Linked DNA regions of Homo sapiens. The protein of the gene in region 3 purifies or fractionates together with the protein of the main gene of each other region. This does not show direct contact. Each region holds a gene or a part of one and is shown on either strand. Other genes may lie near its edges. The genes, in order: AP1M2, AP1G2, AP1S3 and AP1G1.

Region 1 (8,054 bases), on a different chromosome or scaffold from region 3:
TACTGGAGAGGCCTAGGTGAGAGGATCTCTTGAGTTCAGAAGGTTGAGGCTGCAGTGAGCCGTGTTTGCACCACTGCACCGCAGCCTGGGCGACAAAGCAAGTCCTTGTCTCAAATAAATAAAAAAAAAAAATAGGCTTCTGTAATTCAAGGGGCTGTCTTGAGGATTCCTGCATGGGCGACATTTAGGGCCACCCTCACTTATGGTGAGCACCATTTAAGCCAGAGTTAGTGTTACTAATAGTAATATTTGCATCCAGCAATATAGCAAAGCAGGCGGAAGCAGGCTGGGACCAGATTCTTAAATCCCGGGACTCAGATTCGAATTCTGGGTCAACTGCCTCCTGGCTCTGGGGCCGTGGGCTTGGGCAGGTGCCTTCACTTCTCTGTGTCCCTGCTTCTACCTTTATAAGATGGCACGAAGGAGACTTGTGCCAGATGATAACTTTTTATTTTTCATTCTATTTATTTATTTTCTTGAGACGGAGTCTCACTCTGTCACCCAGGCTGGAGTGCAGTGGTGCCATCTCGGCTCACTATAACCTCCGCCTCCCCAGTTCAAGTGATTCTTCTGCCTCAGCCTCCCAAGTAGCTGGAATTACAGGCATGCGTCACCACGCCCGGCTAATTTTTGTATTTTTAGTGGAGACAGGGTTTCGCCATGTTGGCCAGGCTGGTCTCAAACTCCTGGCCTCAGGTGCTCTGTCCACCTTGGCCTCCCAAAGTGCTGGGATACAGGCATGAAACATTGCTCCTGGCCCAGATGATAATGTTTTAATTAAAGTGCAGTGCTGCTGTCAATGTTGATGTTAATTTCAGGTGGAGAGGCAAGTGGATGATCCTGATAGCTGCTGTTCTCTAAGTCCCCACCTACAGGGGCTGATAAAGGGCTGGGCAGGGTTTGGGGAAAGGACAAGTGAGGTCTGGGTAGGCTGAGTCTTGTTCCCTGCAGGCCCTGCAGGACATCTCCCTCCCTCAGCCAAGCAAGGTGGTTCTAAGCAAGGCTGAGGTTTACTTTCCCTTTCCTTCTGCCCTGTCCTCAAAACTACCGCACTTTGGGAGGCTGAGGTGGGCGGATCACGAGGTCAAGAGTTCGACAGCATCCTGGTCAACATGGTGAAACCCCATCTCTAATAAAAATACAAAAATTAGCTGGGCATGGTGGAGTGCACCTGTAGTCCCAGCTACTTGGGAGGCTGAGGCAGGAGAATCGCTTGAACCCAGGAGACAGAGGTTGCAGTGAGCTGAGATCGCACCACTGCACTCCAGCCTGGCGACAGACTGAGACTCCATTTCAAAAGAAAAAAAAAAGGAAAGTCCAGGGGTGGAATCTGGGTCTGCAGCAGCTGGTGTGCACGAAACATGCATGGAGCCAGGGGCCATGCCAGGTATTTGGCTATGCAACTGCAGGAGAGGGCACCATGGCTGTTATACCCATTTAACATAAGAGGAGACTGAGGCACAGCAGGTGCATTCACCAGCCCATGCCTTATAGCCAGTGTGTGGTGGTATCAAAAATCAAACCCAGCATCTGTGCTCTCAACTGCTACATCATCATCCAGATCATCATCTTCATCCTCCTCCTTCTCAGCGACATGGTTGACAGTCAGCTACATCCAAGTTCCCTTCCAACACCACGTTGCACAGAATAACTCATTTAATCTGCACAAACCAGGCACAGTGGCTCAGACTACGCCTGTAATCCCAGTACTTTGGAGGGCCAAGGGGGGAGGATCGCTTGAGCCCAGGAGTTTGAGACCAGCCTGGGCAACATACCGATACACCATCTCTACAAAAAATGTAAAAATTAGCTAGGTCGGGCCGGGTGCGGTGGCTTACACCTGTAGTCCCAGCACTTTGGGAGGCCGAAGCGGGCGGATCACGAGGTCAGGAGATCCAGACCATCCTGGCTAACATGGTGAAACCCTGTCTTTACTAAAAGTACAAAAAGTTAGCCAGGCGTGTTGGCAGGCGCCTGTAGTCCCAGCCACTCGGGAGGCTGAGGCAGGAGAATGGTGTGAACCTGGGAGGCGGAGCTTGCAGTGAGTTGAGATCGCGCCATTGCACTCCAGCCTGGGTAACAGAGCGAGACTCCATCTCAAAGAAAAAAAAAAATTAGCTAGGTGGGCCTGGCCTGGCGCGGTGGCTCACACCTGTCATCCCAGCATTTTGGGAGGCTGAGGCGGGTGGATCACGAGGTCAGGAGTTCAAGACCAGCCTGGCCAAGATGGTGAAACCCCCGTCTCTACTAAAAATACAAAAAAAAAATTAGCCGGGCGTGGTGGCAGGCGCCTGTAATCCCAGCTACTTGGGAGTCTGAGGCAGAGAATTGCTTGAAGCTGGGAGGCAGAGGTTGCAGTGAGCAGAGATTGCGCCACTGCACTCCATCCTGGGCGACAAAGCCAGACTCTGTCTCAAAAAAAAAAAAAAAAATCAGCTAGGTGTGGGCCAGGCGCAGTGGCTCACGCCTGTAATCCCAGCATTTTGGGAGGCCAAGGCAGATGGATCACGAGGTCAGGAGTTCGAGACCAGCCTGGCCAACATGGTGAAACCCCATCTCTACTAAAGATACAAAAAATTAGCTGGGCTTGGTGGTGCACGCCTGTAATCCCAGTTACTTGGGAGGCTGAGGCAGCAGAATCGCTTGAGCCTGGGAGGCAGAGGTTGCAGTGAGCCGAGATTGTGCCATTGCACTCCAGCCTGGGCAACAGGACGAGACTCCAAATTAAAAAAAAAAAAAAAAATTAGCTAGTTGTGGCCAGGCGCAGTGGCTCACATCTGTCATCCTAGCAATTTGGGAGGCCAAGGCGGGTGGATCACCTGAGGTCGTGAGTTCAAGACCAGCCTGACCAACATGGAGAAACCCTGTCTCTACTAAAAATACAAAAAAAGTAGCCGGGCATGGTGGCGCATGCCTGTAATCTCAGCTACTCGGGAGGCTGAGGCAGGAGAATTGCTTGAACCTAGGAGGCATAGGTTTCAGCGAGCCGAGATCACATCACTGCACTCTAGCCTGGTAAACTAGAGCAAAATTCTGTCTCAAAAAAAATTAGCTGGGTGTGGCGGTTTGTGCCTGTAGTTCCAGTTACTAGGGAGGCTGAGGCAGGAGGATGGCTTGAGCCCAGGAAGTTGAGGCTGTAGTGAGCCATGATTGCATCACTGCAGTCCAGTCTAGGGTACAGAGTGAGACCCTGTCTCTACAAAAAAAGTTTTTTGGCTGGGTGCGGTGGCTCACGCCTGTAATCTCAGCCCTTTGGGACGCTGAGGCGGGTGGATCACCTGAGGTCGGGAGTTCGAGACCAGCCTGGCCAACATGGTGAAACCCCATCTCTATTAAAAATACAAAATTAGCCAGGCGTGATGGCGCATACCTGTAATCCCAGCTACTTGGGAGGCTGAGGCAGCAGAATCCCTTGAACCCGGGAAGCGGAGGTTGTAGTGAGTAGAGATCATGCCACTGCACTCCAGCCTGGAGTCTAAAAAAAAAAAAAAATTAGCTGGGCATGGTGGCGCTTGCCTGTAATCCCAGCTACTAGGGGTGCTGAGGCAGGAGGATTGCTTGAACCTGGGAGGTGGAGGTTGCAGTGAGCCAAAATCATTCCACTGCACTCCAGCATGGGCAACAGAGTGAGACTCCATTTCAAAAAACAAAAAAAAATAAATTTTTTATTTGAAATGAATAAGAGTAAATTTGTAAGAATAATAAAAGCAAGTACATTTGTCCTGCTCGGAATTATATCCACAGTTCCTGTTACTGAGTGAATGAATATTTCAAATTCAGTCAGTAAAATTCACCAGTGAAAATTATTATATGAATGAGTGAATGAATGAATTGGGCAAATTTTGAGCACCCAGTGCTGAGCACTAGGGACATAAACATGAACAAGACAAAGTCCCTGCTGTATGGGGGCTGACGTGTGTGGGTGAGACAGAGGAGAAAGAAGGTGAATGGATGGATGAATCAATGAGAGGATGAATGAATGGATAGATGGGTGGATGAATGGATAGATGAATAAATTAATGAATGCAAGAATGGATGGATGGATGGATTGATGAATGGATAGATGAATAAATTAATGATGCAAGAATGGATGAACGGATGGATGGATGGATGGATAGATGAATAAATTGATGAATGTTAGAATGGATGAATGGATGGATGAATGGAAAGATGAATAAATGAATGAATGCAAGAAGGGATGAATGAATGGATGAATAAATGGATGGATGAATGGATAATGGATAGACGAACAAATAAATGAATGCAAAAATGGATGAAGAAATGGATGACGAATGGAAGGATGGATCAATGAATCGATGGAAGATGGATTAATGAATGGCTAAATGAGTGGATGCGTGGATGGATTAATGAATGCAAGAATGAATGGATGGATGGACGAATGGATGGATAGATGAATGAAAGGAAGGATGAATGAATGGATGGAAGGATGGTTGATTGGTTTGGGGTCTCCACCCGTCATTACTCCTGGGTGGCTAGGGAAAGTGAAGGGGGGCAGCAGACCCATCTGAAGTCGCAGTACCTCTCCCGGCCCCGCAGCCATCTTCAAGTTGGCCGACAGCGCTGCTCACCTGGCCGCCTCCCCTTTAAGACGCACACACCTGGGCTCTCACCTGGGCGCAGGCGCTTCCGCAGGAAGAAGGAAGCGGCGCCGCCATCGCCTCCCGGCGCTCCCTCCCCGACTCCTAAGTCCTTCGGCCGCCACCATGTCCGCCTCGGCTGTCTTCATTCTGGACGTTAAGGGCAAGGTGAGGCTGGGCATGAGGAGTTGGGAGACGGACAGGTGAGGTCTCGCTCCCAGGGATTCAGGGGCGACCCCTCCGCGCGGGCCAGGAAGAGGTCTGGGAACACCCCCTCCCCCTGCAATCCCTGGGAATCCCACCTCCAGCATCCACTCGCCTTGTGCCTGAGGCCAAGGGGTTCGCCTCCTAGGGCCTCAGTTTCTCTGTATGTAAAAATGGGAGCAACAGAGGTCCCCACCCAATGAGAATTAATACAACTCGCTGCGTGTAAACTACTTAGCATAGTGGCCTTTCTGGAAATATTAGGGACTCAGCAAATTGAAATTATCTCCATCACTGTCGGCATCCACAGTGTTAATACCTGGGGAAGGCAACTGGAACAGGGGCCTCTAACTCCCCCCATCTGTGGCTGCCTTGCCTCTTCCTGAAGTCCTTTTATTCCTCTTGTCTTTTTTTATTTTGGAGACAGGGTCTCTTGCTGTCTCCCAGGCTTGAGTGCAGTGGTGCGATCATAGCTCACTGCAGCCTGGAATTCCTGGGCTCAAGCGATCCTCCTGCCTCAGTCTCCGGAGTAGCTGTGACTACACAGGTGCAGGCCACCATGCCTGGCTAATTCTTGACATTTTTTTGTAGAGGGATCCCGCTATGTTGCCAAAGCTGCTCTCAAACTCCTGAATATCTGGGGCTGCGGGCTGACCCCTCCATGCCCGGCTATTTTTAATTTTTTTTTTTTTTTTTTTTTAAATAGAGTCTTGCTCTGTCACCCAGGCTGGAGTGCAGTGGCTCCATCTTGGCTCACTGCAACCTCCACCTCCCGGGTTGAAGCAATTCTCCTGCCTCAGCCTCCCGAGTAGCTGGGACTACAGGTGCATGCCACCATGCCTGGCTAATTTTTGTATTTTTTTTTTTTTTCAAGACAGAGTCTCGCCTTGTCACCCAGGCTGGAGTGCAATGGCATGATCTTGGCTCACTGCAACCTCCACCTCCCAGGTTCAAGTGATTCTCCTTCCTCAGCCTCCTGAGTAGCTGGGATTACAGGCGCGCACCATCACGCCCGGCTAATTTTTTGTATCTTTAGTAGAGATGGGGTTTCACCATGTTGGGCAGGATGGTCTCAATCTCTTGACCTCGTGATCCGCCCACCTCGGCCTCCCAAAGTGCTGGGATTACAGACATGAGCCACTGCGCCCGGCCGCACCCGGCCTATTTTTTATTTTTATTTTTTTGTACAGATGGAGTCTTGCTATGTTGTCCAGGATGGTCTTGAACTCCTGGTCCCCAGCTATCCCCCTGCTTCAGCCTCCCAAAGTGTTCGGATGACAGGTGTGAGCCACTGCAGTCAGCCTGTCTTGTCATTTAATAGCCAAAATAAGAGTGGTGGTGAAAATAATATTCCCATTAATATTAATAGTGAGAGCTAAGATGTTTGAGAACCTGCCATGGGTCCTCCCTGTTCAGACACTGGACAAAACAACCTTAGGAAGTGGTTAACTAATTTTTTTTTTTTTTGGAGATGGAGTCTCGCTCTGTCACCAGGCTGGTGTGATCTCAGCTCACAGCAACCTTCACCTCCTGGGTTCAAGTGATTCTCATGCCTTAGCCTCCTGAGTAGCTGGGATTACGGTCATGCGCCAGCACACCAAGCTAATTTTTGTATTTTTAGTAGAGACGGGGTTTCATCATGTTGGCCTGGATGGTCTCGAACTCTTGACCTCATGATCCACCCGCCTTAGCCTCCCAAAGTGCTGGGATTAAAGGCGTGAGCCACCGTGTCCAGACAGAAGTGTTTACTATTATGGGTGTCTTCCTGACTACCAGGCACAATCATATGAACTGTCATCTTTCTTTCTTTCTTTCTTTCTTTCTTTCTTTCTTTCTTTCTTTCTTTCTTTCTTTCTTTCTTTCTTTCTTTTTTTCTTCTTTCTTTCTTTCCTTCTTTCCTTCTTTCCTTCTTTCTTTCTTTCTTTTCTTCTTTCTTTTTTTGACAGGGTCTCACTCTGTTGCTCGGGCTGGAGTGCAGTAGTATGACCACAGCTCACTGTAGTCTCGACCTCCTAGGCTCAATTGATTCTTCTGCCTTAGCCTCCAGAGTAGCTGTGACTACAGAGGTGCAGGCCACCATGCTCAGCTAATTCTTGAAATTTTTTGTAGAGGGATCCCGCTATGTTGCCAAAGCTGGTCTCAAACTCCTGGCCTCAAGGGATCCTCCTGCCTTGGTCTTCATGAGTGAGTCATTGCACCTGGCCTCTTCTTTGTTTTTTTTTTTTGTTGTTGTTGTTTTTTTAAATAATCCCACTTTGGTGCAAATGAAGTCTGGGGCAACAGCAGGGATTCTGGACCCAGGATGCCTTAGATCAATCCCCAGTTTCCATATGCTTCCAGTGGACATGGTTTCTAACCTCACTTCTCCTGTGTGAAATGGAGATGATGATAACATCTACCCCACAGGGTTGTGGCAAGAACTAATAAGTTAGTAAACATCTACTCTTTTTTTAGTAGCCAGCCTGCCTGCCTACCTTCCTTCCTTCCTTCCTTCCTTCCCTCCTACCCTCCCTCCTTCCCTTCCTCCCTTCCTTCTTTACTTTCTTTCTTTCTTTCTTTCTCTCTTTCTTCTTTTGAGATGGAGTCTTGCTCTGTCGCCAGGCTGGAGTGCAGTGGCACGATCTCGGCTCACTGCAATCTCCGCCTCCCAGGTTCAAGTGATCCTCCTGCCTCAGCACCCCGAGTAGCTGGGACTATAGATACACGCCATCACGCCCGGCTAATTTTTTGTATTTTTAGTAAAGACGGGGTTTCACCATGTTGGCCAGGATGGTCTCGATCTCTTGACCTCATGATCCACCCGCCTCGGCCTCCCAAAATGCTGGGATCACAGGCGTGAGCCACTGCGTCCAGCCATCGCCTACCCTTTAATAAAACACAGCCTGGCACTTAGTGAGGGCCCTAGACCCATTAGCTGTTGTCATCACACTCCCATTTTACAGAGCAGGAAACAGGCACAAGGAGGCAGAGCCTTGCCCAAGCCCCTCAGCTAGGAAGTAGGGTCAGAACCGGGCACTGTGCCTCCTCAGCGTGGTAGGTTCTTGGATGCTGGTGGTGACCAGGTCCTTTCCTTCCACCCTCAGCCATTGATCAGCCGCAACTACAAGGGCGATGTGGCCATGAGCAAGATTGAGCACTTCATGCCTTTGCTGGTACAGCGGGAGGAGGAAGGCGCCCTGGCCCCGCTGCTGAGCCACGGCCAGGTCCACTTCCTATGGATCAAACACAGCAACCTCTACTGTATCCACCCCA
Region 2 (6,843 bases), on a different chromosome or scaffold from region 3:
TTTTTTTTAAGCCTGTCCTAAACTCCCCTGGCCTCACACACCTCTGTTCCCCTCCTAGGACCAAGGGACCTGTGGAGGTGAGGAGGTGGGGGAAGGCTCTAGGGAGCGAGCCAGACCCTCACATGTTGGAGTTTTCTCCTCAGCCCCACGACTCCTTATCCTATGAACCCCTCCAACTTTCCATTTTCAACCCAACCTCAGGTCCAGATACTTCGTCTGCTTCGGATCCTGGGCCGGAACCACGAGGAGAGCAGTGAGACCATGAATGACTTGCTGGCCCAGGTGGGGCCTGGGAGGGCACTGGTTAGCTGTGTTGCTTGGAGACCCCATCAGCCCTGGGTGCCCCTCACATGACTCGTCACTGTGCAGTGGCCGTGTAATTGCCTCTCCATCTCCTCTAGACAGTGAACTCCATGAAGAAGGGACACAGTCTGTCTTAGTGCTATTGCCCCAGTGCCCAGGCTGGCCCTGGCACATAGTAGAGCCTCAGGGAACTTTGTTGGATGGTTGAAGGATGGACAGATAACATGTTGGAGTCCTTCAAGAATCCTGAGGATTACCTGGGCTTGTTGGCATGTGCCTGTAGTCCCAGCCACTCAGGAGGCTGAGGCAGGAGGATCATCAGAGCCTGGGAGGTCAAGGCTGCAGTGAGCTTTGGGCGACAGAGTGAGACCCTGTATCAAAAAAAGGAGACCTGAGGAGGGCCTTGAGCAGATACATCTCCTCTCTCATCCACTCAGGTGGCCACTAACACGGACACCAGCCGAAATGCCGGAAATGCGGTCCTGTTTGAGACAGTACTCACCATCATGGATATCCGCTCTGCAGCTGGCCTACGGGTATCACCCCTTATGCCTCTCCCACTACGGCCCCGCCCACCACCTCACCCACACAGGTCCTGCTTGCTGGTTTCTCCCTCCTAGCCCCATCATCTTGCGCCAATGTGTTCCCAGTCCTCAATGGCTGAGCAGGTTGCTCCTTTCCGACTGACCCCAACTTCTGCCTCTCATAGGTTCTAGCTGTCAACATTCTTGGTCGCTTCCTACTCAACAGTGACAGGAACATTAGGTAATAGTCCCAACTGTCTACCTAGGCTGTGCCACTGATCCCCTGGCCCTCTGCCCTCCTTCCTCCAGAGCCTCCTGATCCATTTCTCTCTTATCTTATCCCTATACCCAGGACAGGACGGGGAGTGGGGGCTGATGGCCATGGTATGATAGAACCTCCCCCATCCTGACCAGGTATGTAGCCCTGACATCACTGCTTCGACTGGTGCAGTCTGATCACAGTGCTGTGCAGCGGCATCGGCCCACTGTGGTGGAATGTCTACGGGAAACTGATGCCTCCCTCAGCCGGTGAGCAGTGATAGAGGGGACAGGAGGGCAGGGCAGAGGTTCCCAGTGCCCTGTGGCCAAGACTCGAGCCAGTTTAGAGCAGCTGGAGTAAGGGGACTAAGGGGGACAGGTCCCTGGGGAAGCAGAGGGCCTGAGGCATGGACCAGGATGACCTGGGCTACCTGCATGGAAACCTCTTTCTCCTGCCAGGAGAGCCCTGGAACTAAGCCTGGCTCTGGTAAATAGCTCCAATGTGCGAGCCATGATGCAAGAGCTGCAGGCCTTTCTGGAGTCCTGCCCTCCTGACCTACGGGCTGACTGTGCCTCAGGCATCCTGCTGGCTGCAGAGAGGTGAGGTGCCCAGGAGTCGAAGAGGGTAGAATCTGGGGAGCGTCAGTACCAGGACTGATGAGCCATATATCCCCTAGGTTTGCTCCAACCAAACGCTGGCACATAGACACCATCCTGCATGTGCTGACAACGGTGAGGCAGGGGCCAGTCAGAGAGCTGGGCAGAAGTGGTCAAGATTCACCACACTGACTTGGCCATGCCCACACCTTCCAGGCGGGCACCCATGTGCGGGATGATGCAGTGGCCAACCTGACCCAGCTGATTGGGGGGGCCCAGGAGCTACATGCCTACTCTGTGCGCCGCCTCTACAATGCCCTGGCAGAAGACATTTCCCAGGTACCATTCCCACCTACCTAGGCCCAGGGCTGCCCAACCACTCCCTTGCCCATCCTGGGCCACCTCCTCCCTACTAGATTCCAATTTTTCTCTCAAGGTCACAGCTGCTTACACAGTGCAGAAGACATCTGAGCACAGAGCCCTGTTTTTAAGAACATCTGGGCTTTTGTCCTGACTCTGGTACCTCCTGGTTATGTAACTACAGATGACTAACTTCCCTTATGCTCCATGTACCCTGACTGCCTCTTAGAGCTGCCTTGAGATTAAAGCTCTTGTGTTTATGAGGTTTTATTATTACCTTGAATGCTGAATGAATTAACAGATGCCAGCCAGTATCTATAGCCCCCTTTTCCATCTTAATTAAATAGGGTGGGCAGAAAGCATCATCCACCCCTTCCACAAGGGAGGGACCCTCTCACATTTCCATCCTGTTTGGTTAGGCCATGTAGTTCTGATGCTTGGCCACCAGAGGGCAGTGGGAGCCAGGTAACAAACTTCCCTTTCCCCACTCCTCCAACCCCCCACCATCTCTGCACTGCCTAAAGGGATATTGCCAGGTCTGGAAGTGAGGAGGGGACCTCAGACACTGGCCCAGCAGTGTTTCTTTCTTTCTCTCTCTCTCTTTTTTTTTTTAAAATAGAGATGGGGGGGGTCTCGCTTTGTTGCCCAGGCTGGTCTTGAACTCCTGGTCTCAAGCAATCCTCCCGCCTCAGCCTCCCAATGCGCTGGGATTACAGGCTTGAGCCACCATGCCTGGCCAGCCCAGCAGTTTCTTATCCCATGTAGCAACCACTGGTGCAGGTGGCAGCCTGGTGCATTGGGGAGTATGGGGACCTCCTGCTGGCAGGGAACTGCGAGGAGATTGAGCCCCTTCAGGTGAGACCTCATTGGGGGTACACTGAGGAGGGACTTGTCAGGGGGACAGGACTTGCACCAGGGCCACTAACTGTATCCATGTCTGAAGGTGGACGAAGAGGAAGTGCTGGCATTGCTGGAAAAGGTGCTGCAGTCCCACATGTCCCTGCCAGCCACTCGAGGATATGCCCTCACAGCCCTCATGAAGCTCAGCACTCGCCTCTGTGGGGACAACAAGTAAGAAGGGGTCCCAGCCCCTTGAGAGATGGCCTGTCACTGGGTCCACCCATTTTTGAGTTTCTTTCCAGGCATACATGCCCAGCCCTCCCTACCCCCTAGCCCTTAGGTTCTTGTTTTTGAGCCAAATCTGGGTATTTCCCTGCTCCGTGGGCCTTTCCTTCTTGCCACATCCTGCAGTGGCACACTGCCATAGCCACTTACATACTACACTGGCCCAGCCGCATCCGCCAGGTGGTGTCCATCTACGGGAGCTGCTTGGACGTGGAGCTGCAGCAGCGGGCTGTGGAGTATGACACACTCTTCCGGAAATACGACCACATGAGGTGTGTCCAGCACTGTGCTGCAGCATGGGACCCAAACCCCTGCCCTCTCCCAAATGCCCTTTTCTAGGTACAAGGGCCTCATCCTCACCTGTGTTCTTCCATATCCACGGTGAGAGCTTCCCACCCACTGTTAATTGAAGCTAAGCTGGCTTCCAACCCTCCTTGTTCATCTGAAAATCAGCAACAACATGTCATTTTAGGAAATCAGAAGGGTACTTCTGAGCCACCATGTGCCCAGGGCTCCATATTCCTAGTCCTCATCCTAGATGCCTCTTGTGAAAGGCCCAGAGACCACACAGAGGCACACTTGCATTCCATCCTCTCAGGGCTGCCATCCTGGAAAAAATGCCTCTTGTGGAGCGAGATGGCCCTCAGGCTGATGAGGAAGCAAAGGAAAGCAAAGAAGCAGCCCAGCTTTCAGAAGCAGCCCCAGTGCCCACAGAGCCCCAGGTGAGAAGGCTAGAAACTCTGGGGTAGGAAGACGGGCTGAGCTTCATACCCAGCCCTGCCCCTTCTGTCCCTTCTGCCAGGCCTCACAGCTCCTGGATCTGCTAGATCTCCTGGATGGGGCTTCTGGGGATGTCCAGCATCCTCCCCATCTGGACCCCTCCCCAGGAGGTGCCCTGGTACACCTGCTTGACCTTCCCTGTGTACCTCCACCCCCAGGTAAGCCTAAGCAAAGGGAAGATGTCTTAGAGAAGGTAGGTGGAAATGTACTGCTCCTCCTCCTAAGCCAAGGGCTGAGGCTCATGGACCCTGCTTCTTCCTGTGTGTCCCCCATCCCATCGCCATCTCAGGAGGTAAAAGAATGAAGTCAATCATGGTCATCTGTCTTCCCTTTGTTCCAGACTTCTTTCCCTGGCCTACAGGGCCCTGCTTCCTCCCCAACCCTTCTTATACCACTTTCCCACTACCCACTCACTGCCCCCTTCTCAGCTCCTCACACCCTCCCACCCTTGGCATTTCATGTTCTTTTTTACATGGAATGTTCTTTCCCCAGCACATCAAATGACCAGCTCATTCTCACTCTTCAGGCTTCAGCTAAAATGTCAGATGCCTTCCCCTACCACTCCTATTTAAGTCAGTTCTCCCCAGTTATTCTGGCATGACTTACTTCCTTCATAGCATCTATTATGGTCTGTAATTATCTTGCCTTTTTTTTTTTTTTTTTTTTTTTTTTTTTGAGACAGCGTCTTGCTCTGTCACCCAGGCTGGAGTGCAGTGGCGTGATCTCGGCTCACTGCAACCTCTGCCTCCCGGGTTCAAGCTGTTCTTGTGTCTCAGCCTCCCAAGTCCGGGCCTCAGGTGATCCACCCACCTCAGCCTCCCAAAGTGCTGGGATTACTGGCTCACGCCCGGCCTTTTTTTATTGTTTCTCTCCCCCATTAGACAGTAAGCTCCATCCTCATCTACATGTCTACTTTGTTACTAGCCTTTCGAGTAGTGCAGGGCCAGTAGGTGTTTACTCAATTTTTGTTGAATGAATGAACAAACATGTTCTCTCAAACCTGCACACTGAGCTGCTTCTGTCTCCCTACTCCAGCTCCCATCCCAGATCTCAAAGTGTTTGAGCGTGAGGGAGTACAGCTGAATCTGTCTTTCATTCGACCCCCTGAAAACCCTGCTTTGCTGTTAATCACCATCACTGCCACCAACTTCTCAGAGGGTGATGTCACCCATTTCATCTGCCAGGCTGCTGTGCCCAAGGTTTGTAAAGATCAGAGTTCAGAGGTGGCCTGGGGACTCCAGGAGAAAAGGCCACTAAGTGGAGGAGGTGGGTGGGAGACAGTGTGAGATGGGATTGAGTCATCTGGAGATCAGCACTTGGGGAGTTACAGGAAAAGGGTGTGGAGCCACTGAGTATAGAGGGGCTGCCTGAGCCCTACCTACTGCCATACTGTGCTCTGTTAAACTCCTGTGTTCAGAGTCTCCAGCTGCAGCTGCAGGCCCCCAGTGGGAACACAGTTCCAGCTCGGGGTGGCCTTCCTATCACCCAGCTCTTCAGAATCCTCAATCCTAACAAGGTGAGCTTCAGGAGTTCCCCCAAGACAAGACCCAGGGATAGAAGAAGCCGTGGGTGCTAACCCTGGTCCCTGCTCTCCTATTCCTAGGCCCCCCTGCGGCTAAAGCTGCGCCTCACCTACGACCACTTTCACCAGTCGGTGCAGGAGATCTTTGAGGTGAACAACTTGCCTGTGGAATCGTGGCAGTAACTGTCTCCACTCACAGCCTGAAATTCTCCTGTGTCCCAAACCCCAGGGGGCCCCAGCAGCTTCGAACCTACACCTGAGGGCTACCAGCAGGTGGCGCTCTGGCTTTGCACTGCAAAAACTGGGGACCAGCCCCCTTCTCCCACAAATAAAGCCCAATAAAGCCTGAGAAGTGAGGAAAGCCATATTTGGGTATATTTGAAGTGGAAAGTGTGTATGAATAACAGCAAGGGAAGAGCATTCTTACATAGGAGGTATGCATCTTCCCCTGAGCCTTGAGAACCTGTCTCAACACGGGGGCGGGGAGGGGGCAGCTGTTGGTTCTTTCTAACCCTCTCCAGGTCAGGGAACAAATTTGCCCCTAAACTTCCACAGGAGGCACTCTACCCTCTGGGCCAGAGCTGGGCACAGTGGCAAAGTCAGATTAGAATTTCTAGAGTTCTAACAGCGATTCCCAACCATTTCCTCAACTTTTCTTCTGTTTCCCACATCCCAAGGCAGGGAAATCCCTGCTGCCTCTCCTCATCTTCTAACTCAGCTGTAAGGCGGTTTAGGAGCCGCTGGCAGAATCAATGGCATCGACCAAGGGAGGGGGGGTGGCAAGGGATTTTCCTGTGCTTAACTACTGATCACGGCTAAGTGGAAATCCTATAAACACGAGCGGAAATCAATGGAGGCTGCTTAGCGGCCAGGGGAGAGGGGCGGCCCACAGATTGCATCTGACGGATGAGCGAGAGGAAGCAGCCAGGGAGGGCTCAAGGAAGAGTAGCTTAGAGGAGGGGGAAGAAACAGGCAGCGCTGGAGAGAGAGGAGTCACTGTCAGAAGGGACACTGAGGGGAGAGGCACAGTGGGCCCAGGAGTGGACTCCGTTAGACCCAGAGTTCCCTTCCCCTTCTAGGAAGTGACACCCCTAGCCCAGGCAGTGGTCAGGATCTTCAGTCTCCTGTGGCCTCTCTCTGGAGCTGTTCACTTCTAGCAGGCGCTGATAGTCTTGAGGCCGGAAACGCTGTAGATACACAATCAGCTTGGCTGGTGCTGTCTCCTGTGCAGGCACACCTACAGGTAAAAGGACAATGAGGAGAGAAATGGACAGAGCCACAAGCACTTGGACTCTGCTCCCTGCCCACCTAGCCAGGACTCCGTGGATGTTTCCAAAGCCACACTGGGGTTCTGAATGTCACCCACCCAGCTTC
Region 3 (8,427 bases):
GAGTGCAATAGCGTGGTCTCAGCTCACTGCAACCCTTGCTTCCTGGGTTCAAGAGATTCTCTTGCCTCAGCCTCCCAAGTAGCTGTGATTACCGGCATCCACCACTATGTCTGGCTAATTTTTGTATTCAGTAGAGATGGGGTTTCACTATGTTGGCCAGGCTAGTCTCGAATTCCTAACCTCAGGTGATCCGCTAGCCTCAGCCTCCCAAAGTGCTGGGATTAGAGGGGTGAGCCACTGTGCCCAGCCTAGAGTGAGGTTTTAAAATAACACTTTTCTGTGTTTTCCAAATCTGCAATGAACCTATATTATTTTATAATTAAAAATTTTCTGAAAATATTCTTTAGAAATATATTAAGTAGAGTTTTTCCATTTGGAATAATAGGCCCTCTTTTGAAAAGTAAAGGGGGTTTCTAAAGAGCATAAGGCCTCATACTAAAAGTTTCACCATGACAAGATGAATTTCTGAATGCTGCAGAAGGGATTACTGGAGATGTTGATTACTTAAGACATTAATAAGAGGGCATTAAAGAACAGCAGGACCAGGCTTCAATTAATGCCTGTGAAGGCACTGCATAAGCCGACTTTGAAGTTGGCCTCTCCTTTGCTTCTTTCAGTTTCTTAAACTCACAGCTTGATCTATCTCAATTTCTGTGAAGTCAGTATTTTGGTTTATAGATTATTATTATTTTACTTTATTATCAGGTCCCTAACTTGCTCTTCTCCCTTGCTGTGGACTTGATGGTGGCTTTTGCTGCATTCTCTCTGCATCTTCTGCTAATATTTAAATATAGAATGATCTGAGAAGTGAAACTCCTAAATCAAGTTGACCAAATGCCAGGGCATTGTTTTATGAGTAAATGTACACACACAGAATCACATGCACCAGCTCATAAACAACCTAACCGGAACCATGTAACACACTGTACTTGTCTTCTAGGACATTAGATTTTGAATCTAAAAGCCTCTTTAGGATCTGACCAGGGAACTCCTCTTTAGACTGGTACATCTTGAGTGATAGGGCCTCTGGGTCCTCCCTGGGGTTTTGCTATTTGTGGGCCACGTGTGGAGTCAGGAGTTTGAACAGAAGCAAAGATGGGATACAGAAGTCAAGACTAAGGCTGGGTGTGGTGTCCCATGCTTGTAATCCCAGCACTTTGGGAGGCCAAGACAGGAGGATCCGTTGAGGCCAGGGATTCTCGAGATCAACCTGGGCAACATAGTAAGATCCCATCTCTACAGAATTTTTTTTTTAAAGGAGAAGTCAAAGCTTAAAAATGCATGTTATTCTTCTGAGACAAATGACTGATGAAATAAACACTGCTTAACTCTCACTGTTGCGTTCTGAGTAGGTCTGTCAGGGGTAGGGCTTTAGGGGGAACCATCTTGAATCTTAGTGCCTTGATTCTAGGCTTATCCCTGCCTCTTATTAGCTTCTTTTTACACTTAGTTTATTATTATTATTTTTAAAATAGAGATGGGGTCTTCCCATGTTGCCCAGACTGATCTCAAACTCCCGAACTTAAGCAGTCCTCCTGCCTCGGCCTCCCAAAGCGCTGGGATTACAAGCCTGAGCCACTGTGCCCGGCCTGCCTCTTATTATTGCTGTTGAGCCTCTGAGCCTCAGGCTTTCATCTGTACCATGGCCACAGTGCTTCCTTTCTTACGGATTGTTTTGGGGGCAGCCAAGATAACCCTGTGAAGTGTCCAGCTCACTGCAGGCCTCCCTCTTCGGTGATTTGGGGTATGGTGTGAGAATCTGGAGGAAAAAACACTGGGTGGCAGAGGCCCCAGAGAGCATCCTCTGCCCATCTCAGCCAGGCCAGGAGGAAAGGCAAAGGACACTAATAATTTTTAAGTTACCTGCCCCCCTCAACCTCTACATCTTTAATTACACCCCCTCCAACCATAAGCCACACAGTAAGGGAAACTTCTCCTGCTTTATTTTTTTTAATTTTTATTTTTTGAGATGTAGTTTAGCTCTTGTTGCCCAGGCTGGAGTGCAATGGCACAATCTCGGCTCACTGCAACCTCCATCTCCCAGGTTCAAGCCATTCTCTTAGCCTCCCAAGTAGCTGGGCTTACAGGCATGTGCCACCATGCCTGGCTAATTTTTTGTATTTAGTAGAGACAGGGTTTCACCATGTTAGTCAGGCTGGTCTCAAACTCCTGACCTCAGGTGATCCACCTGCCTCAGCCTCCCAAAGTGCTGGGATTACAGGCATGAGCCATCGCTCCTGGCCTTTCCTGCTTTAATATTTGACTTAACTGTCATGGCAAGAGCACTGAGATGATTTCTTTAGCTTTTTTTTTTTTTTTTCCTTTTTTCTTCTGCGAGAATCTCGTAGTGTCGTCCAGGCTGGAGTACAGTGGGGATCTCGGCTCACTGCAAACTCCGCCTCCAGGGTTCAAACAATTCTCCTGCCTCAGCCTCCTGAGTAGCTGGGATTATAGGCACCCGCCACCACACCCAGCTAATTTTTGTATTAGGGGTTTCACCATTTTGGCCAGGTTGGTCTTGAACGCCTGACATCAGGTGATCCCCCCGCCTCAGTCTCCCAAAGTCCTGGGGTTACAGGCATGAGCCACGGCGCCTGGCCTGAGATTTCTTTAGCTTTGTAATTCACCTTTAGTAATTCCATTTCTTTCCCACTAGCAAAGAAACCCTTACAGCACAAGGCTCTGGATGGTGGCACAGAGCTGGGCCCTGCCCTGAAGTTACCTAGAAAGGAGGAGAAGCACAAAGATTAGATTCTATCTAGTTAGATAAAGCATGATGTACTGAGAAAGGGAAGGAACAGACCCTGGGGGAAGAACATAGGAGTTAAAAAGTAGCTGTCCTAGATTCACTTTTCTTTCAGGAAGCAAAATCATCCCATCGCCTGGGGTTTAACTGTTGTCAAATAGTCCTCTTCCAATGCCCCCGGCAGAATGCCACAAGTCCAGGTTTGAGAGCTTTGAGGCTGGAGGCTGTGGCTCTCCTGGGGGCTTGCAGTGATGCCCTAATGTAGAGAACACTCATTGCCTCTGGCCCCTGCCCACCTCTAGGCCTCCTGGCACTTAACTCACATAGAGGCCTTTTTTGAAGTGTTTCCAGAAGGACTTTTTTTTCTTCTTCTTCAGAGCGCTGGCTTCTCACATCCAAGTCTTCTGTCACCTCCCCAGGGGGCACTTACCTGACCACTCAGCTAAATCAATGTAGCTTCCCTGTGCCCATCCGAGGAACTCAAATATCTCCTTCTTAGCACTCATCTTAATTTCTTATATTTTATTTACTTGTTTATTATGTGTTGTCCCACAAGAGACGTAAGCTCCAGGAGACAGACCACCTGTTTGTTCCCAGCTGGGTCCCCCAGGCTCCTGTTGTAGGGCCTGGCCTAGAGTGATGAATATTTGCAGTGTGAATGCAGGGGTGGATGGAGTTTCCCATATTTTCAGTCACCTGGGTGGGCCTACATCCCTAGGAAGGTACACAACACATCCTGGGAAGGACTTTCACTGATTTGGGGTTCCAGGGACCACCCAGGAAATGACATTTTTTTTTTCAGACTGAGTCTCACTCTGTTACCTAGGCTGGATGATCTCAGCTCACTGCAACCTTTGTCTCCCGGGTTCAAGCGATTCTCTCCTGCCTCAGCCTCCCTAGTAGCTGGGACTACAGGCGTGTGCCACCACGCCCAGCTAAATTTTGTATTTTTAGTAGAGACGGCGTTTCACCATGTTGGCCAGGCTTGTCTCGAACTTCTGGTCTCAAGCGATCCGCCCACCTGGGCCTCCCAAAGTGTTGGGATTACAGGCATGAACCATCACGCCTGGCCCAGGAAATGATTCTTAACTTTTGCAGGGTCTAGGATCTCTTTAGCTATTTGATAAAACCAGTGGACTCCCTTTCTCAAAAACATGAATATGCATTAAAAACTCTGCTTACATCTAGTCTATCTGGTAAATATAATTAAAAGAAAAAAGAAAAAACTCTGTTTACAGCTTGGGGGTTTAGAGACTCTCAACGCCCTAGATTTAAGAAAAGTCAAGGGGAGGAGAGATTGGAGAACGAACTTTCTACACCACAACTTCTTAGGAGAGACTTCTTAAAAGGGGGTCGTGCTGCCGGGCGCAGTGGCTCATGCCTGTAATCCCAGCACTTTGGGAGGCCGAGGCGGGTGGATCACCCTGAACGCAGGAGGCGGAGGTTGCAGGGAGCCGAGATCGCCCCACTGCACTCCAGACGGGGCGACAGAGCGACACTCCGTCTCTAAATAAATAAATAAATAAATAAATAAATAAATAAATAAATAAATAAATGGGGGCCTGCTTAAAATGATCTTTGCCCTTAGACTGCAGAGCTTACTTTTTAAAAAGTGAAATGGGGGCAGAAGGGGATAAGAAAACGCTTCTAGTTCTTTCTCTTCCAACTGCTCCCTCCCTAGGAGGCTTAGGATAAGGCAGCCCCCGGCACTTTCTGCGAGTGTATCGGAAGTATCTTTGCCAGGTTTGATAAACGTTTGCGGAAGGAATACAGGACACACTCGCGCGGCAGAATCGCGAAAAGTCCCCGGTGTTCTCCGCGCAGGGAGTTCCCCGCGCAGGGAGTTCCTAGCGGGCCACGCGCTCTCGCCTGACCACCCGCGCCGAGCTGCGGGCTGTCGGGGTACAGACGCCCGCGCGCGCAGGTGCATTCGCTCCAGGTGCGGCCGGCTCGGGGCGGGAACAGCTGCAGCCGAGGCGGGGGCGGGGAGGGGGTACAGAGGAGAGGCAGAAAGGAGGGAAGAGGAGGAGGAGGAGGAGAAGGGAGGAGAAAGGGGAAAGGAAGAAAGAAGGAGAGCAGGAGGGCGAGGAGCGGGGGGAGCGGGGAGGAGGGCGCGGGGAGGAGGCAGCGGGGAGGAGCGTGCAGGGAGGAGGCAGCCGCGCTGGGAGGAGTCTGCACACTTTCAGTGCCAGGGCATTGTGGGAAGCAGCCATGGTCTAAGCCGGGCGCCTCACCTGTCAGCCGCACCGGCTCCAGCGCTCGCCTCTCGCCCTCGCTTCTCCAGCGCTCCTTGCTCGCAAGGCGGGGGAGGCGGCGGCCCAGCCACGATGGTGAGTGCGGGGGAACCGCCGGCCCGGGTAGGCGGTGGGGGCGCTCGCGCTCCGGGGAGGCACCTGGGGCGTCCGGGCCGGGCGCGCGGCCGGGTGGGGGTGCGGGCCGAGTCCCGCCTGGCCACCCGAACCGTGCGTCCCTGTGGCCCCGCTGCCCCAGACGGTGCGGACGCGCCAGGATCGCTTGCCCGGGATTCCTGCGGCAACGCGGCGCCGCGGCGCCGCGGCTCCATTCATTCATTCGATCCGCCTTAGCCGAGTGCTTAGTCTGTGCCGGGCTCGGTGCTGGGCGCTGGGGATGTCGCGGGGGACCAGGAGGAGCCCCTGTTCTCCAGGAAGCTTACCTTCCAGGAGGGGGATGCGGAGGGAGGGACACGTCCAATATACAAGTAAAATGAAGAGAACTTCTAAAGTAAGAAGCGCTGTAAAGTCTCAAATACAACCGGGTGGAGTGGCAACTTTTGATTTGGCAAAGCCTCTTCAAGGACATGACATTCTAGCTGCTGGAGGTCCTGGAGGGGCGCTACAGGTGGATTAGAGAGAGCAAAGCGGAGGGGAGAAGGCCTTGTTTGTGGCAGGAGAGGTGGGCTTCTGCCAGGTGAGGCGGGTTTTTATAGGCCAAAATAAGGAGTTTGGTTTTGGTTCCAACTGAGTAGGGGAAACCTCGGGGACGTTTTAGCAAGAAAACTGACCTTACCCGTTGTGCACTTTTGTTTTTTTGAGACTGATCTCGCTCTGTCGCCCAGGCTGAAGTGCAGTGGTGTGGTCTCGGCTCTGCCTCCCGGGTTCAAGCGATTCTCCTGCCTCAGCCTCCCGAGTAACGGGGATTACAGGCGTGTGCCACCACACCCAGCTAATTTTTGTATTTTTAGTAGAGACGGGGTTTCACCATGTTGGCCAGGCTGGTCTCGAACTCCTGACCTCAGGTGATCCGCCTGCCTCGGCCTCCCAAAGTGTAGGGATTACAGGGGTGAGCCACTGCACCCGGCATGGTGTGCAGTTTGGCTGTGGTTGGAGAATGGACTGGGGTGTGTAAGGGCAGGGGATAGGGGGTCAGGTTGGAAGCTGAGGCCGGCCGCAGCCCTGCTGATGAGAGATCTGGTGACCTGCACTTGGGTGGAAGCGATAGCTCAGGCTCCTCTTGCTCTTGCCTGCTGTTTAGGGGCAGCCTTTTAAGAGTGTGGTGGTCTGAACGTCACTAGTCCCACTTCCCCAAGTGTGTTACCACTTCCCAAATCCGCAGAAGGGAAGTGACCTGCACCCTGTGGGCCCACCGGAGGCAGGAGTGGGTGGGCCACGTGGGCTAAGAAAGTTGATCAACAAAGAGAGCCGGGGAGTGCTGAGCACCTGGCCAGCAAGACCGCAGTTGCTGGTTTCTGTTAAAGGTTTGGCTGCACACACTAGCGGCATCATTTTTGTCTGTTGAGGGTTCCTTGTAAATACAGCGTGATGCAAAAACAATGCTGTAAATAATGGAGCAGGTTTCTTGGCTTGCTCAAGTTTCCCAAGGAACAAGGTGACAGATGCCCAGTCCACCAGTGTAATTTGCCTAACAGAGGCTGGAATAAGGCCCTGCGTTTCTGAGTCATCAAAGGCTGCTTTTGTGCTGAGGAATGGGCCAAGGTTTGGTCTATAAGGAAAAGCTGCTCCTCTGGACAATACCTGTGGTGGAGTTTTATTTTTTCTTGCTGGTGTCATATGTGTGATGAGTTGATCAGAAATGTGGGAAGTTTCTCCAGCTTTTCTACCAGTTTTTGCTAAATGGGAAACATTATTATTATTTTTTTTTCTTCGAGACGGAATCTTGCTCTGTCACCCAGGCTGAAGTGCAGTGGCATGATCTTGGCTCACTGCAACCTCCATCTCCCGAGTTCAAGCAATTCTCCTGCCTCAGCCTCCTAAGTAGCTGGGATTACAGGCGCCCGCCACCACGCCTAGCTAATTTTTGTATTTTTAGTAGAGACGGGGTTTTGCCATGTTGGCCAGGCTGGTCTCAAACTCCTGACCTCGTGATCCACCTGCATCGGCCTCCCAAAGTGCTGGCATTACAGGCATGAGCCACCGCACCTGGCGGGGAAACATTAATGTTATTGGGCATTTGTGATAAGACAAGCAGGATGTCCTGCTCTTTATATTCACGATCTCATTCAATCCTTGCAACAAACAATTGAGGTTAAATCTGTTATGCTCATTGCATTTTAGCTACTCTGAGCTATTCTAGCAGTATGGCCTTGGACAATTCCTTGACCTCTCTGTCTCAGTTTGCCCATTTGAAAAATGGAGATAATATCTCCTAACTCATAAGGCAGAGGTTCTGAAAGTGTGACCTGGGTACCCCCAGCAGTCCCCAAGACTTTTACTGGAGGTCTGCAAGGTCAAAACTATTTTCATAATAATACTAAGATATTAATTTTCCCATTTCATTCTCATTCTCACAAGACTACAGTGAAGTTTTCTTGTGTCTACATAAGCTGAGATAGTACAACAGATTGAACACAGATGCAGATAGGAAAGTCCAACTGTCTTTGATAAGCCCAGACATTAAGGAGATTTGCAAAATTGTAAAACAGTGCCATGCTTTTCACTAATTTTTTTTTTGCTTTGGAAAAATATTGTTATTGGTCATAAAAATGTTATTTATGTTTAATGTGTAATAGGTTTACTATTGTTTTTTCTTTTTATTTATTTATTTTTGAGACAGGGTCTCTGTGTCGCCCAAGCTGAGTGCAGTGGTGTGATCACAGCTCACAGCAGCCTCAACCTCCTAGGCTCCAGCAACCCTCCTACCTCAGCTTCTTGAGTAGCTGGGACTGTAGGCATGTCCCACCATGCCCAGCTATTTATTTATTTATTTATTTTGAGACAAGGCTTGTTCTATCACCCAGAGTAGAGTGCAGTAGCATGAACATGGCTTACTGCAGCCTCAACCCAGTGGACTCAAGGCATCCTCCTACCTCAGCCTTCCATGTAGCTGGGACCACAGGTGTGTGCCATCATGCCCAGGTAATTTTTTGATTTTTGTATAAATGAGGTCTTACTTTGTTGCCTAGGCTGGTCTTGAACTCCTGAACTCATGTAATATTCCCACCTTGTCCTCCCAAAGTGCTGAGATTATAGGCATGAACAATTGGGCCCAGTGGAATTTTTTACTTTTTGTAGAAATGAAGCCTACCTATGTTGCCCAAGTCGTATTATTTTAAAATATGTTAATATCTATTTTTTCATTTTAATTTCAAATACAATAAATATCAGTGGATATAACCCACATAAACAAAAAGGTCTTTGGGATTGGCAGGCGGATCACCTGAAGTCAGGAATTTGAGACCAGCCTGATCAACATGGAGAAACACT
Region 4 (8,118 bases), on a different chromosome or scaffold from region 3:
GCATGTTTTCTATCTCAGTGGTACATAAAATAATGGTGTGAATTACGATTGGTATCTTACATTTAATGAAATATGGTAGTAATGAATAATACTTTAGCTTACATAATTTTAATGTGGCAGAATTATGAATAAGACCATATATATATATATATATATATATATATATTTTTTTTTTTTTTTTTTTTGAGATGGAGTCTCACTCTGTCACCCAGGCAACCTCTGCCTCCTGGGTTCAAGCAAATCTCTTGCCTCAGCCTCCTGAGTAGCTGGGATTACAGGCATGCGCCACCATACCCAGCTAATTTTTGTATTTTTAGTAGAGATGGGGTTTTGCCATGTTGACCAGACTAATCTAGATCTCCTGACCTCAGGTGATCTGCCCGCCTTGGCCTCCCAAAGTGCTGGGAATACCGTGCCCAGCCCCCAGTGTAATATATCTGTACATTGAGAGTGAATCTTCACTCTTGCAACTTTTGGCCCTAGAGAAGACTAGTGTCTCTCTCTCTCAAATATTTTAGAAGTTTAATCTACTTTTAGGAAAGATTTTCAAATGCTAGTTCATACAATAGCTACGTAGTACAGTATGGTTTACCTAGCTTGCCCTATATAGCACTTTTTTTTTTTTTTTGAGACGGAGTCTTGCTCTGTTGCCCAGGCTGGAGTGCAGTGGCACAGTCTCGGCTCACCACAACCTCCTGGGTTCAAGCGATTCTCCTGCCTCAGCCTCCCGAGTAGCTGGGACTACAGGCATGTGCCACCATGCCCAGCTAATTTTTGTATTTTTAGTAGAGACGGGGTTTCACTGTGTTGGCCAGGCTGGTCTCGAACTCCTGACCTCGTGATCCGCTCGCCTTGACCTCCCAAAGTGCTGGGATTACAGGCTTGAGCCACCACACCCAGCCAGCACTTTCAACTCTTATTTCTATAAGCAAGCAAATAAACCCCACCAGCATTCAACAAATTAATACTGTTTGGCTTATCTAGGTCTTTTGCTGTATAGGCTGGTTCTGCAAGTCTTTCCGTTCCTTCTGTCATGTGGAGAGGAGGCTCTGACACATTATAGATTATGCAGGCTTTAAAAAACAAAAGTTCAAGTCTCTGCATCCCAGTTATCCAATCACACAAAAGCCTAAAAGCTTATAGTTGGTGACCAGTATGTTGGTTTGCTATTTTTGGGAAGCTTTTCTTTTCATTTCTTTCTGGCTGTTTTTTAAGCCAAAAGCACCGATATTTTACTTGCATAGTTGATCAGTTACCATTAAGTGAAGTTGCCAGAAGAAGAATTGGTCAGCTTTTGAAAAGAGGTAGGCTAGAATTCCTTCTGCCAGAAAGGAGAATGTGGTTTATTACTAGTTGTCATGATCAAAGAACCGAACAGTGGATTTTTACAAATACCACAGGGAGTCAACTCACGTGCTGTGAATTCCTGATATCTAGAAAACAAGTAGTAGGCAAAACTTAGTAGTAGTGAAATCTGTTGCTTGACCCATCATCTGGGTGTCTAAATGGTTTTTGGTATCTCTGACCTAGCGTTGTGTAATTCTTTTTCTGAAGAGTGCCCTTTGTTCCCCCCTAGACATTCCAGCTGCAGCTCTTGTCTCCTAGCAGCAGCATTGTCCCAGCATTTAACACGGGGACCATCACACAAGTCATTAAAGTTCTGAACCCTCAGAAGGTGAGTAGCACATTTGTAGCCAATATCTGAGCCGAAGTGTAAGCATATTTCCCGAAATAAAATTCTGCTTTGTTTCTTTAGGTTTTTCTGACTCATAGTTAGAGAAGAGATCAATGAAAATGCCTGGTCTAACTTCCTTGCTCTTTTGTAAATAACAAATGGAACCCAGAGACATCAGGTGGCTTAGTGGCATCTTATTAAAATGCAACTTCAAAAAAAGCTAGATTAAAGGTCTGGTTTTTGGGGGTAGGGGAGAAGCTTAGACATTTTAATTTATACACAAGTTGAAATCTGAGGTAAGAGCATTTGTTGAAACCAAATACCTACATTTACTGCTACAGTTATTAAGTATGAATAGAAAAATAGAGGCATTTTAAATGAAGCAGCCAAATGAAAAATAGCTTTAGAAACTGAAATTAAGCAATATTTTTATTATCTCTTCTCAAAGAAATAAGCTCACCTTAATAGTAATCAGTTGGTTTTCAGTTTTTGAAAATGGTTCAGAGAATTTCTTTAATAGAGCTCTACTAGTTGCTCATAAGTAACAGTATACTTTCTTTCTCTTGTAACACTTGCCTTTCCTCTGCTATTCACTATATTTTGAGCATCGGCCTCTATAGTACAAGCACAAACTCCTTTGACCATCTGATACAGAGAGTAAAAAATGTCTTAGTGCATTTGTATTTGAAATCTGCCATACAAAAAGTGTCTAATTGAGTTCTCTTAAAACTACTGCTGTTACCTGTGAGTTAAGTCATTTTTTAAAATTTTATGCTTTAGGAACAAAAGGTCATGTTCACATTTACTGTAGGTTTTTCAGATAAAGCAACAGTGTATCTGAATGGAGAGCGTACGATGAGTATATGTTCACCTCATTTTTTAAGAGACTTGGATACAAGGTTTGAATCTTTTTGAAAAGGACTCAGCAAAATGTTACTAGGAGAATGCTCCATGGTGGCTCACGCCTGTAATGCCAGCATTTTAGGAGGCTGAGGTGGGTGTATTATCTGAGGTCAGGAGTTGAAGACCAGCCTGGCCAACATGGTGAAACCCCGTCTCTACTAAAAATAAAAATATTAGTCTGGTGTGGCGGTGAGCCAAGATTGTGCCACTGCACTCCAGCCTGGGCAATAAGAACAAAACCCTGTTTCAAAAGAAAAGAAAAGAAAAAATGCTCCCAAGGAGTTCTGTCCTTTTAATGCAGTTCAAGGATTAAAGCTAACCGTGTATTCTGCAGATGCGCTTTCTCAACTTGGTGGCATGACATTGTTAGCTTCTTGGCTCAAGCCTAGAGTACTGGGTGTTTTTTGTTGTTGTTTACCTGTCATTCTTAACAGACAGCTTTGCTTTAAGTTTTGACCTCTAAGATTAAAAGTCTATTTGTGGACCGGACAGATTCTGGAGATTTCATTTCAGTATATAATTTGCACTTCTCTTTTCCTCTTATAGCAACAGCTGCGAATGCGGATCAAGCTTACATATAATCACAAGGGCTCAGCAATGCAAGATCTAGCAGAGGTGAACAACTTTCCCCCTCAGTCCTGGCAATGAGGGTTTGGCACCATTCTCATTCTTTATCCCACTCAATCAAAGGAACTCTGGGAAGGAGGTTGTGATTGCTGGCAAGTCCCCCCCAACTGTACCACGGGCATGAGGAGCTGAAGAGAACTGCTGAGGAGGATTTTCCTAAAGTTACTGCTGACCTTGAAGCATTGTTAAAGACTAATGTCCTCTCCTCCACTGTTGAGGCTGGCTGCTTCTGGAGGCTACTTTGCACTCTTCCTCTTCTCCTTTTTCCGCACTTCTCCACCCCTCCCACATTTACAGCCAGAATCAACATTCCCTGGGCCCCTGAGGAAATAAGCAGCTGGTCTGGAGGAGAGGACTGCAATCCATGGCGAAAAAACACTCACTTTGTCTCTGCAGCAAAGAGTTGCCCCTTCTTTCTACTGTTGTTTCTCTGTGGACTGGGCAAGGTGGGGTATTTATTCCTCACTAGCTGGGTTACCATCTTCAGGCACTTTTAACATCTGGCATTCGGAATGGAAATGTAATAATGGACATTAGGGAGCCCTGCCTTTTTCTACTGGTTCCCCCAATGTTTGAAAGAGGCATTAGGCTCCTGGTAGCCTTTTCTGTGCATTGCTGTATACACACAGACACACACATGTATGTTTGTTACCAAGAACTGGTCAGACCTTGCGAGTTTATTTGTAAACACTGGACAGATGGAGTTAAAAAGAGCTTTTGTTGAGATTTGGCATGAAGGATATGGTGCTCTATTTGTAATAGAAACTTCCAAGGCTCTTCCAGCTCCCCTTTCTCGCCATTCTTTAGCTGTAGTCATGAATAGTCTCCATGATTTTCAAAATTGATTCCCTTTAAAGTGCAAAATGGTCACCTTCTAAAAGATATATTCATAGTTATTAATGACCCTATTCCCACCACAAATTTTAAAGTGCTCCTAAGCCCATAACTTGCCTGTTTGAACTATGGTAATGGGTGGAAGAGGAGTTCACCAGTTTCAAAGATCAGACTCTGTATCAAAAGTACCTTTGCCCTTAGGAAGAGTGAGTATTGGAGTCATCTTATCTATTACTCCAAACCTCCCTTTTTATTTCTTGAGCCTGGCTTGGACCTTGGCATTCCGTTTGAATTCCTTCTAACTGGAACATTTGTGTTGTATCTGTAACACTGGCACTGAAATAAAGACCACACGGTTAAAGAAATCTTTCCATATTGTACTTTATGGTGTTGGAGTGAAGCCTTGTAGCTTCCATACCCCTATGTCAGAGGAGGTCTTACGGACACCATAGGGTAGGAATAGCCTTTCCTCAGTCTGAGAAATTGGTCTCTTTTAAAAGACGAATCTCATGAATATTCACATCAAAGACTTGAGCTTTTTAAACTAGTGAGAGTGCCAAGTGCTTTTTAGAAAGGACCCATATGTTATCAAACTTTGAAATTGAGTTGCTGGAATGAAGTAGAGGTGACTCTCTCTGTGGTACACATTGAATGTACTATGTATGTTCAAGTATTCAGGCGCCATGTCTTATATACTGAAGAAAGAAAAAGTGAGGCCCACCTTGCTCTTACAATGTTTGCAATTGTTACTGTATTGAATACAGTATAATGACTACTATGGCTTCAATCTTAAACCTGGAAACAAATATCCCTTTTTTTCCCCTTCATTTCACCAAGCCTTTACTTAAAATCTTCAGTGTCTTGTCAAATCTAGCTCTGTATCAGATGCTGGAATATTCCTAACATTTGACAAACTGGAGTTGAACTAAAGGCTCCACGGGAAAGTTTCTGGTCTTACTAGTGTGTATGAGCAAGATCTGCTAAAACTTACTCCACTGGGTAAATGGTTGACTGAGTCAAGAACAGGATAATATCTCCTGCATAGTTTTCAGTAATGTAAGTGTGGACTAGTGCATATTTCAGACAACTGCTCTGCCTGTGCAATGAAAAATAGCCTTTAAGGGTTTCTTTGCAGACTGATTTCATTGGATGGATACTTAATGCTGTGAAACATGATAGGATTAACATAATGTTGGTGGATTTCTTGAATAGAATTTGTCTTAACATTCCTCTTTGTGTAGAGGCTTTATTTTCTCTCTTATATTTGTAGCTAACCAGCTCAGGTTTTTTTATTTGAACTGGGTTGAATCTCTGAAGAAATCTGTTCAAGACCATGCTATAAGACACTGTCAGCTAATGGAGCTGGGAAGGGTCTACTCTGCTGACAGAGCATTTCCTTGGGTGATCATAGTTTCGAGGTAGAGTTTATGATCATTCATAGCTTTGTCTAGAAGGAGTAAAATATCATGGCCTTAACACAAAGGGTGCTGCGTAGAATATGAATTGATTTTGGAATCAGAACACAAGCACCATACTGAAGGACTAGCAGCCAAATAACTGCCTAGGATACTGATGGTTGTGAAGACTGTTTCAAATGATTGGATCTTTGAAAGCTTCAGCGTGCCTTAGTTTCTAGGATCAGAATTAGTTTTCCTCTCACTTGGCCTTGCAGCTAAATGGAGAAATGTTTCAATTTCTTTGAATACTTGCACATTTCAATAATTCCTTTCCCGAGTATAACCACTCAAGGGGGAGCAAATTTGGATGGATTTACGACTTCACAGGCATTGTGAGGAAAGAGCATTTTCCAAGGCTGTTTTGATAACCCTGGGGTGATAAGCAGTGAGCCCTCACACACTTACTTTGACAATTTCACATGCACTTGTACTTCATTATTTCCCTCTTCAAGAGTCGTTTCTATTCTAGTTTCTGCCCCATCCCGGGGAATCCTAAAGGAGAATTAATTCATCTAAGTAATCTCAAAAAACTGTAGGAAGGGTGCTCTCCCTGAGAAGCTTCTCCCACAGTGCTTTGGTGCTGTTACCTTGAGGTGGTTTGGACAGTCACGGAAGTTTTAGGCTGTGCATAGTGATCATCTGTTAATTTTAAGGTCTTTATCATTTAAAGAAACATTCCTCAGTGTAACATTTGGGAGGGGATTCTTTCCTCTTGCTAGTTTAAAGGTGTGATTTGTACTCCTTGTTTGTCCCATTCATATATGAAAATAGACTTTTAAAACTGTCCAACACTAATGGTTTATATAACATGCTTCCCATTTTTTTTATGTCGTAGAAATTGGAAGTTAGGGAGTACTGCTTTCAAGGTTCAACTTCATTATCTTCTGCATTGGAAAATATTTGGGCCATGAGAACTAGGGGAAAGGAGTTTGAATGTGTCTATTTTTTTCTAGTGAATGTATTTTAACCACAGTGTCCTAAACTGAGAAAACTAGAGAGGAAAAAGTGGGTGTTCATGAACTTTGTAGTTGGGAGAGTGGTTTTACATGTCTGTGTATTCATGACTTTGGGAGTGGGTAGGATCATTGGAGAGAGAATTGCACAGAAAGTCCTGAAGTTTAAAACACTTTTGACCAGCTTTGGCTCGGGAGAGTGGGGCTGCTTGTAGAACTGGAAGTGAATAACTTTTTCAAGCAATATCAGTGAGTGGGTCCCATCGACAGGGTTCCAGGACCTGGAACACTTTAACAGAAGGAAATGCCGAAGCAGCTTGCACAGTTGCTTTACAGACTTCCAAGAGGCTGATTCTGGCTTCAAGATGGAGCCTTGGAGTTGGTTTTTTTTTTTTTTTTTTTCTTCCCTCAAAGAACCTGCGGTTGCGCTTTGTGTGTTTTGTTTTTGTTTTCCATTTGGGGGCCCCATGGGAAAGAGCTTCTGAACTCTTTCCTTTATGAACTCCCACTGTGTTCCTATAAAGGCCCTTTTCTTTCTTAGTGTTGTAAGTTACATTTTCATTATGCCCCATCACATCTTCTTTACTGTAAAAATATTAAAAAGCTGTTTCCAAGTGGGACAGCTAATGAAGCTCTAATTATTGCAGACATATTTTTGAGATGTAAAAAAAAAAATTTAAAGTTAAATGATAAGTCTTAGAGGCGAGTGAGGAATAAAATGGATGTAAACATTTACATGGGATGCATTAGAATTCTGCTGTGTGTACTGTCTTTTGGTTGAAACAAATTATGAACAGTGACTAATAATAAAAAGTCAATACCCAATGATTTAAAATTTGCTTCCTTGCTTCTTACAATTGGATTAGAAGACTTAGATGAATTCTTATTCCAGAGGTTGAGCTAACTTACTGACCTGTTAGTATTCCTTTCACACATAAGTCTCACCAAGAGAGGAATTTGAATCACTTAAAAACTTGTAGCCAGGCGCGGTGGCTCACGCCTGTAATCCCAGCACTTTGGGAGGCCGAGGTGGGCGGATCACCTGAGGTTGGGAGTTAGAGACCAGCCTGACCAACATGGAGAATCCCTGTCTCTACTAAAAATACAAAATCAGCCACGTGTGGTGGCGCATGCCTGTAATCCCAGCTACTCGGGAGGCTGAGGCAGGAGAATTGCTTGACCACAGGAAGCGGAGGTTACAGTGAGCCGAGATCACGCCATTGCACTCCAGCCTGGGGTGACAAGAGTGAAACTTCATCTCAAAAACAACAACAACAACAAACTTGTGTTATAGACAGTAAAAAAGTCCTAAGTGCAATTGGACATTTTAACTATAATATGATTAATTTCATGCTTAATCTCCATAGGTCAATTCTCAAGGCAGAGAAACCAAGATGAAATGTATATTAAGGGTGGTTATGGGTTTTCTTTATAAGCTGCTTTTTGTGAATTTTTCAAGTGTATCTGTGACTGGGCAGAGGAAGGCTTGACCAGTCAAAATGAGTTATATTTCATGGTCTATTTTATATGAACTGTGTATTTTGTATATATTAACTTTTGTAGGGATGTGGTCTTGCTATGTTGCCTAGGCTGGTCTTGAACTCTTGGCCTCAAGCAATCCTCTTGCCTCAACTTCCCAAAGTGCGGGGATTACAGGCGTAAGCCACCG

What was found.
Region 1: the proteins of AP1S3 (region 3) and AP1M2 purify together in Homo sapiens (affinity purification with mass spectrometry; 3 studies listed by BioGRID and IntAct, with this or other methods). This does not show direct contact.
Region 2: the proteins of AP1S3 (region 3) and AP1G2 purify together in Homo sapiens (affinity purification with mass spectrometry; 2 studies listed by BioGRID and IntAct, with this or other methods). This does not show direct contact.
Region 4: the proteins of AP1S3 (region 3) and AP1G1 purify together in Homo sapiens (affinity purification with mass spectrometry; 2 studies listed by BioGRID and IntAct, with this or other methods). This does not show direct contact.

Annotation. Positions count from the first base shown.
Region 1 is NC_000019.10:10,583,902-10,591,955, reverse strand, and holds the start of AP1M2 (AP-1 complex subunit mu-2), read left to right. Parts: upstream 1-4,643; 5' UTR 4,644-4,724; coding exon 4,725-4,766; exon of another isoform or gene 4,767-4,801; intron 4,802-7,885; coding exon 7,886-8,042; intron 8,043-8,054. UniProt on the Homo sapiens protein: Subunit of clathrin-associated adaptor protein complex 1 that plays a role in protein sorting in the trans-Golgi network (TGN) and endosomes.
Region 2 is NC_000014.9:23,558,558-23,565,400, reverse strand, and holds the end of AP1G2 (AP-1 complex subunit gamma-like 2), read left to right. Parts: intron 1-201; coding exon 202-282; intron 283-560; exon of another isoform or gene 561-674; intron 675-740; coding exon 741-839; intron 840-1,012; coding exon 1,013-1,068; intron 1,069-1,179; coding exon of another isoform or gene 1,180-1,237; exon of another isoform or gene 1,238-1,241; coding exon 1,242-1,355; exon of another isoform or gene 1,356-1,544; coding exon 1,545-1,685; intron 1,686-1,762; coding exon 1,763-1,817; intron 1,818-1,898; coding exon 1,899-2,021; intron 2,022-2,118; coding exon of another isoform or gene 2,119-2,196; exon of another isoform or gene 2,197-2,302; intron 2,303-2,807; coding exon 2,808-2,897; intron 2,898-2,985; coding exon 2,986-3,113; intron 3,114-3,293; coding exon of another isoform or gene 3,294-3,309; exon of another isoform or gene 3,310-3,324; intron 3,325-3,334; coding exon 3,335-3,439; intron 3,440-3,527; exon of another isoform or gene 3,528-3,765; coding exon 3,766-3,889; exon of another isoform or gene 3,890-3,969; coding exon 3,970-4,105; exon of another isoform or gene 4,106-4,304; intron 4,305-4,982; coding exon 4,983-5,146; exon of another isoform or gene 5,147-5,364; coding exon 5,365-5,463; and 4 more. Other genes in the region: THTPA (thiamine-triphosphatase), read right to left, coding at 6,561-6,706.
Region 3 is NC_000002.12:223,834,097-223,842,523, reverse strand, and holds the start of AP1S3 (AP-1 complex subunit sigma-3), read left to right. Parts: upstream 1-4,941; 5' UTR 4,942-5,073; coding exon 5,074-5,076; intron 5,077-8,427. UniProt on the Homo sapiens protein: Subunit of clathrin-associated adaptor protein complex 1 that plays a role in protein sorting in the late-Golgi/trans-Golgi network (TGN) and/or endosomes.
Region 4 is NC_000016.10:71,728,166-71,736,283, reverse strand, and holds the end of AP1G1 (AP-1 complex subunit gamma-1), read left to right. Parts: intron 1-1,576; coding exon 1,577-1,675; intron 1,676-3,124; coding exon 3,125-3,226; 3' UTR 3,227-7,284; downstream 7,285-8,118. UniProt on the Homo sapiens protein: Subunit of clathrin-associated adaptor protein complex 1 that plays a role in protein sorting in the late-Golgi/trans-Golgi network (TGN) and/or endosomes.